Linked DNA regions of Homo sapiens: region 1 is linked to region 2. Evidence: fine-mapped expression QTL. Tissue or cell type: blood mononuclear cells. Region 2 holds a variant in brackets; the other region holds the start of a gene. All regions are shown on one strand. Distances are between the middles of the regions.

The links. PIP is the estimated chance that this variant, and not a neighbour inherited with it, causes the effect.
Region 1: it holds the start of GOLGA3, and the variant in region 2 is fine-mapped to the expression of GOLGA3 in blood mononuclear cells (TOPMed, PIP above 0.99).

Annotation. Positions count from the first base shown.
Region 1 is chr12:132,827,356-132,830,034 of GRCh38, forward strand. It overlaps GOLGA3 (golgin A3), which reads right to left and starts at 1,514. Exons shown (of 24, transcript NM_001389683.1): 1 at 1,448-1,514. RefSeq lists silencers at 792-891, 1,392-1,451, 1,822-2,031 and an enhancer at 1,602-1,741.
Region 2 is chr12:132,772,248-132,774,906 of GRCh38, forward strand. GOLGA3 (golgin A3) reads right to left here. Exons shown (of 24, transcript NM_001389683.1): 23 at 1,910-2,073; 24 at 1-1,047. The coding sequence ends at 858. Among named protein-coding and RNA genes, the nearest start is that of ANKLE2, 12 kb to the left of the region's middle. The variant A/G (reference allele first, on the strand shown) is at 1,060.

The DNA of each region.
Region 1 (2,679 bases), 55 kb after region 2:
GACTCCGGCCTCAGCTCCCGACCCTCCACCACTTACCTGTGAGAGCCTGGGCTAAAGATTTCTTAATCACATTTAGCCTGTTTCCTCACCAGTAAAACAATGAGAAAATGAACGCAAAATTTTGCCAGGATTAAATATAACAAGGCACAGAGTCTGTCCCGTGTCCTCAATAAAATGACAGTAATTATCACGATTTTCCCTTTAGTTGTTGCTTGTCAAAATCGCTAAAAGCCAACTGAAGGCATTCTCACTTGGGAAAGTATGCTACTTCTTAAGGCAATCGGGGGAAAAAAAGCTCCTCTTCAATCTGAGTGATGTCAGATGATTTATTTCCTTCTTGCCATTTAAGGTATACTGCCTGAAAAGATATTAAAGGGTTATAAAGCGCTATGTTGATGTCGTTTAAAAGACAGTTCAAAATAATCCACGACGACGGGTGTGGCTGCTCACACCTGTAACACCAGCACTTTGGGAGGCTGGGGTGGGAGGATCGCTTGAGGCCAGGAGTTCCACACCAGCCTGGGCAATACAGCAACACACCCAGTCTCTTAAAAAAAAAAAAAAAATCCATGAGTCATCTGTAAATGGCTTACACTGGCCCAGTGACAATAAACTCCAACCTCTTAAGAATCCAGCACCTGCCTACACCAACATCCTTACCGCCATCGCTTTCCCCCTTTGCCATTACACTGTGGCCACATCCTCCGCCCTCAGGGTCTTCAAACTTTCTGCCTGAGGCGCGCTTTTCTCACAATTTTGCCTGGCTTGCTTCTCGTCATAGAGGCCTTAGCACGGAAGTCGCCCGCCCCCCAGGCTCCCACTTAGAGTAGCGGACCCCACCCAACCACCGCCCGGTACCCTCTCGCTGGCGACCCTGGGTGTCCCTGTCCTAGGTGGGCTCCGCGGGGGCAGTGACCCAGACCCACAATACCCAGGACCCGCCACACGACTGACATTCGTCGGGTTCATACCCGTGACAACGCCCGGCCCCACTCGCTCTGGCCACCTGGAATGAAGACAAGTCGGCCAGCGACAAAGACAAACAAGGAAGTACACGGACTCCTGAAACCCCGACTTCCCACGAACCACCCGACACCATGTCACGCCTTTCAGCTGCAAAGGGCCAGGCTAAAGCAAGCACTGCCCGAGTGGTGGCAGTGGACAGCTTCGGGACAGGCCGCGCTCGTCGGGCGCAGACAAGCATTCAGGAGGGCTCGCGGGCACCGGCATTTACAGAGCCAGCTCCGCCGCAGCTGAAGGCGGGCGCCCAGGCCCGAGGCCACCGCAGCGAGGCGGGGGTGACTGGAACGGGGCCGTCCCGCCACGCTGCAGGGACGCGCCCAGGCCCCGCCGCCGCCCCTCGAGCCTCCCCCGCCCATGCACTGCGGGAGCGGGAGCGGGAGCGGGAGCCCGAGCCCCGAGGCGCCGCGGCCTCCGAGCCCCTCACCCTGCTGCTCTGGCAGCCCCGGAGGCCGCCCGGCCCGGATGCTCCGGCGGAGACGTGGCCGTGAGAGGGGCGGGGCGAGCGGTGCATCGGCCTCGGGTCCCCGGAAACAGCCTGCACGCGCTACTTTCGTTCCGGAACAGAGAACGTCCTCCTCTTCTTCAAGTGGCCACCCTAGGGCCGGGGACCCTCTGCCCACAGGGTCCGGATCGAGCTCACCTCCGACTGTGATGAGGCCGCCTTCAGAAAGTGACCTTAAGAGTTTGCGGACCTTTCCCTAGTAGAAACGCAACTTCCGGAACTGCAGGACCAACTCTTTCAGGAAGCTGAACCGAGCTTCCGGCGGAAGTGGCGTGGCCGGGGCTCGGCATGGGCGCGGCCGAGCTCGGTGTGGGCGTGACTTCCCCGCCCGCCCTAGTCGGGTCCCCGCCCCAACCCCGCACCTCCACCCGGCCGGCGCCCTTCGCGCTTCAGGTGCCAGATCAAAGGCGACGCTGCTTTGGACCCTATTTGCTTCCCCTTTAAAAAGGGCAAAGCTGGACGGCGCGGGCCGCTGGCCGCTGGGGAACGGCTTTCCACCTTCCCTCATCCGCCAGGCCGCTCTTCCAGCTGTCAGGAAGGAAATGGCCTGGAGGGCGCCTCGGGGTCCTCTGTGATGTTGCGCTCATCTCTGCGGATTTTGGAATACGCTTCAGTCTACGAAGTTTTCTGGGATTTTGATGGGAACTGCTGCAGATCGTTTGGGGAGCACGGGCATCGCTGACTCGGTCCTTCATCTGCGTCCCTGGTGGCCCCTCCATTTATTTCGGTCTTTTGATTTCTTCCACCAGCATTTTGTAATTTCAGCATACAGATTCTGCACCTTTTAAGTTTATAGTATTTCACATCAAACAACTGTAACACTGCGTTTTTGACGTTTTCCACGTGTTCACTGTTGGTCTACACAAATGTGATGAATTCTATGTTGATTTTCTTATCCTGAGACCTCGCTGAACTCATTAGTTTGAGGGTTCATTTGGTGTTTTGCGGTTGTTGTTGTAAAATCCTTGTATTTTTTACATGGGCCATCATGTTATCTGCAAATGCAAATTCTAACACAAAATGATCAGACTGAGGCGTAAAATATACAACTTTTAGAAGAAAACAGAATTTCTCACATCTAGAGCTTGGGGAAGAGTTCTTAGATCTGACCAAAAAAACACAATTCACAAAAGAAGTTGATAGAGTAAACTTCA
Region 2 (2,659 bases):
AAGACTGGGTGACAGGCCGGGCGCAGGGGCTCACGCCTGTAATCCCAGCACTTTGGGAGGCTGAGATGGGCAGATCACTTGAGGTCAGGAGATCGAGACCATCCTGGCCAACATGGTGAAACCCCATTGCTACTAAAAATACAAACATTAGCCTGGCATAGTGGCGCACGCCTGTAATCCCAGCTACTCGAGAGGCTGAGGCAGGAGAATCGCATGAACCTGGGAGGCGGAGCTTGCAGTGAGCGGAGAGTGTGCCACTGCACTCCAGCCTGGGCAACAAAGCGAGACTCTGTCTCAAAAAAAAAAAAAAAAAAAAAACAAAGATTGGATTATGATATTCAGTATCTATGTACACATCCTATGGTGGGATGGCTATCCAAAAAAACAAGTAAAAAGCCAAAGGTACAGATAAAATTTCATTTCTGCGGAAAAGTAAAGCTCTTACTGAATGGAACAGGGAAGTGAGAAACTGCAGCCGGCCTGGCCAGGCGCGGTGCCGCAGACCCTGTCACACAGCTGCTCCCAGTTACGCAGCCTCTCCCTGTCACCCGCAGAGAGCAGCATCGGTGGCCGCTCAGAAGCCACGACCTACAAGTAACCCTTCAGACACGTTCAAAGCTCCTCGCCGAGAGCCTATCAGGCTTTTAAGAGTTGGTCATTCCATGTGAAAAGCTAATTGTGATCTTCGAATGTTTTTCTAGTCCTTGGCTCTCATTCTGCTATATATTTTACTTCTTGTTAAAGGCAAAACAAAACTTAAATTTCATGTCTTAGAAAAACATCGACCACACAATCAAATAAATAACATTGATAAGAGCCTTCTGGGGCAGCGGCGCACGGAGGCGAGTCCACAGCAGTCACTCTCCCGGCCCTTCTTTGGAAGCCCTGCTCTGACTGTGTCTCTGTGGGTCGCCGCGTGGGCCGGCGTGACCCCCCGGGGGCACAGGGCTGGCAGTGGCTGGCTCCAGCGGCGTCCACGAGGACAGAGACTCGTGCACCGTCAGGGCGTGCTCCTCCATCTGGCGCTGCAGGCTGTCCATCTCCTGCCTGGGACAGAAG[A/G]AGGAGGAAGAAGGCCCAGATCACACAAGTGCCAGGCAGAACGCGCCACCTGTGGACAGCGTCACTCGCTAGCACCTGAGTGGACCGGGGCGCCTTCGGGGATCCGCAAACCAACTGAGACCACAGAAGCTCAGCTGTTCTCAGCACCGTTCTCTACACTGTGCAGAGGACACAGGCTCAAGGACCAGTCCTGACCAGGCGGCAGGGTGGAAGCTGTCACTGAGGCCTGGCACACACGACTTCCACTCCGTTACCTGCCCTCGGGGCGCCGCCTGGCTCCGCCCTACACACTTCGCTCAGCCTCAGGCTGCCAGGTGCACCATGTGTGGCCTTCCAGCTTCTCAGGGCCTATCAGGGTAGTTTAACTCCAGGCAGTTTCCACCTATGAGTTCACAGGCTGTGTGTGCGAGTTCCCCCACCTTTATATAAACCTCAGAGGCTGTGCGAGTCCCCCTCCCACTTTATATAAACCGCAGAGGCTGTGTGAGTCCCCCTCCCCCTTTATATAAACCTCAGAGGCTGTGCGAGTCCCCCTCCCCCTTTATATAAACCGCAGAGGCTGTGAGTCCCTCCCCCTTTATATAAACCACAGAGGCTGTGCGAGTCCCCCTCCCCCTTTATATAAACCTCAGAGGCTGAGTCCTTCCCCCTTTATATAAACCTCAAAGGCTGTGTGTGCAAGTCCCTCCCTTATATAAACCTCAGAGGCTATGTATGCGAGTCCCCCACCCTTATATAAACCTGCTGAAACTCTGCTGGGCACTCAGTACTGGCACCAGGAGTGCCCTCCCAGGTAAGAGGGCATTAATCTTTAAGACTAGCTGAAGTGCAGCACGGAATACGGTCGTACTTGAGCTGCTGGAGGCAGCTGTTCAGGTTCTTGAGGGGCTCCTTGCTCACGGCGGGCGGTGGTCTCAGCAGCTCCTCCAGCAGCGAGGCGGGAACTGGGCAGTCCGGGATCTTGATGGGCGTGGCAGGGTTGGAAGAGCTGGCCTCGCCTTTCGGCTCCTTTCTCTGTTTTTAAAAGCACATGATCAGCTTTCCCACCGTCCCCTCCCTCGGGTCAGTCTCACTAGCACAGCTTGTGGCAAACGGGCCTCCCCAACTGGTGGACGTGGGGCCTCTGGGAAGGGGACCGTCCTGGCCGCCGTGGCAGCCCAGCACGACAGTCCCCGGAGCTCCAGAATAGCTGGCTGAGGAAACACCTTTATTCCTAAGGCACAAAACCAGAGCAAAGCAGAGACAACCTAAGTCCTGGGTCTGCGGCAGGACGGGGCCGAGCCACAGACTACAGCTCTCCCAGACGCTTCTCCCATCAGATACTCAAGACCTTGATGTGGAATTTCCGTAAGAAATTAAGTAAGTTTTCCAGCTTAGGCTCCCTTTTCTGGGACTTCAAACTTTTTCCACAGATAAGCACACGACGCTAAACGGCCTCTCAATCCGAGCGCTGCCCTCCCACCTGCCTCCTGGAAAACATGGATGTGGACCGAGCACAGAAAACCGCCGGGCGCCTGGGCACAGCTCCCGGGCCCCAGCCCTTCACACACAGCAGGGACTGCCGAGTCACAGACCACCGCTCATCTGCTTTACAAAGCAC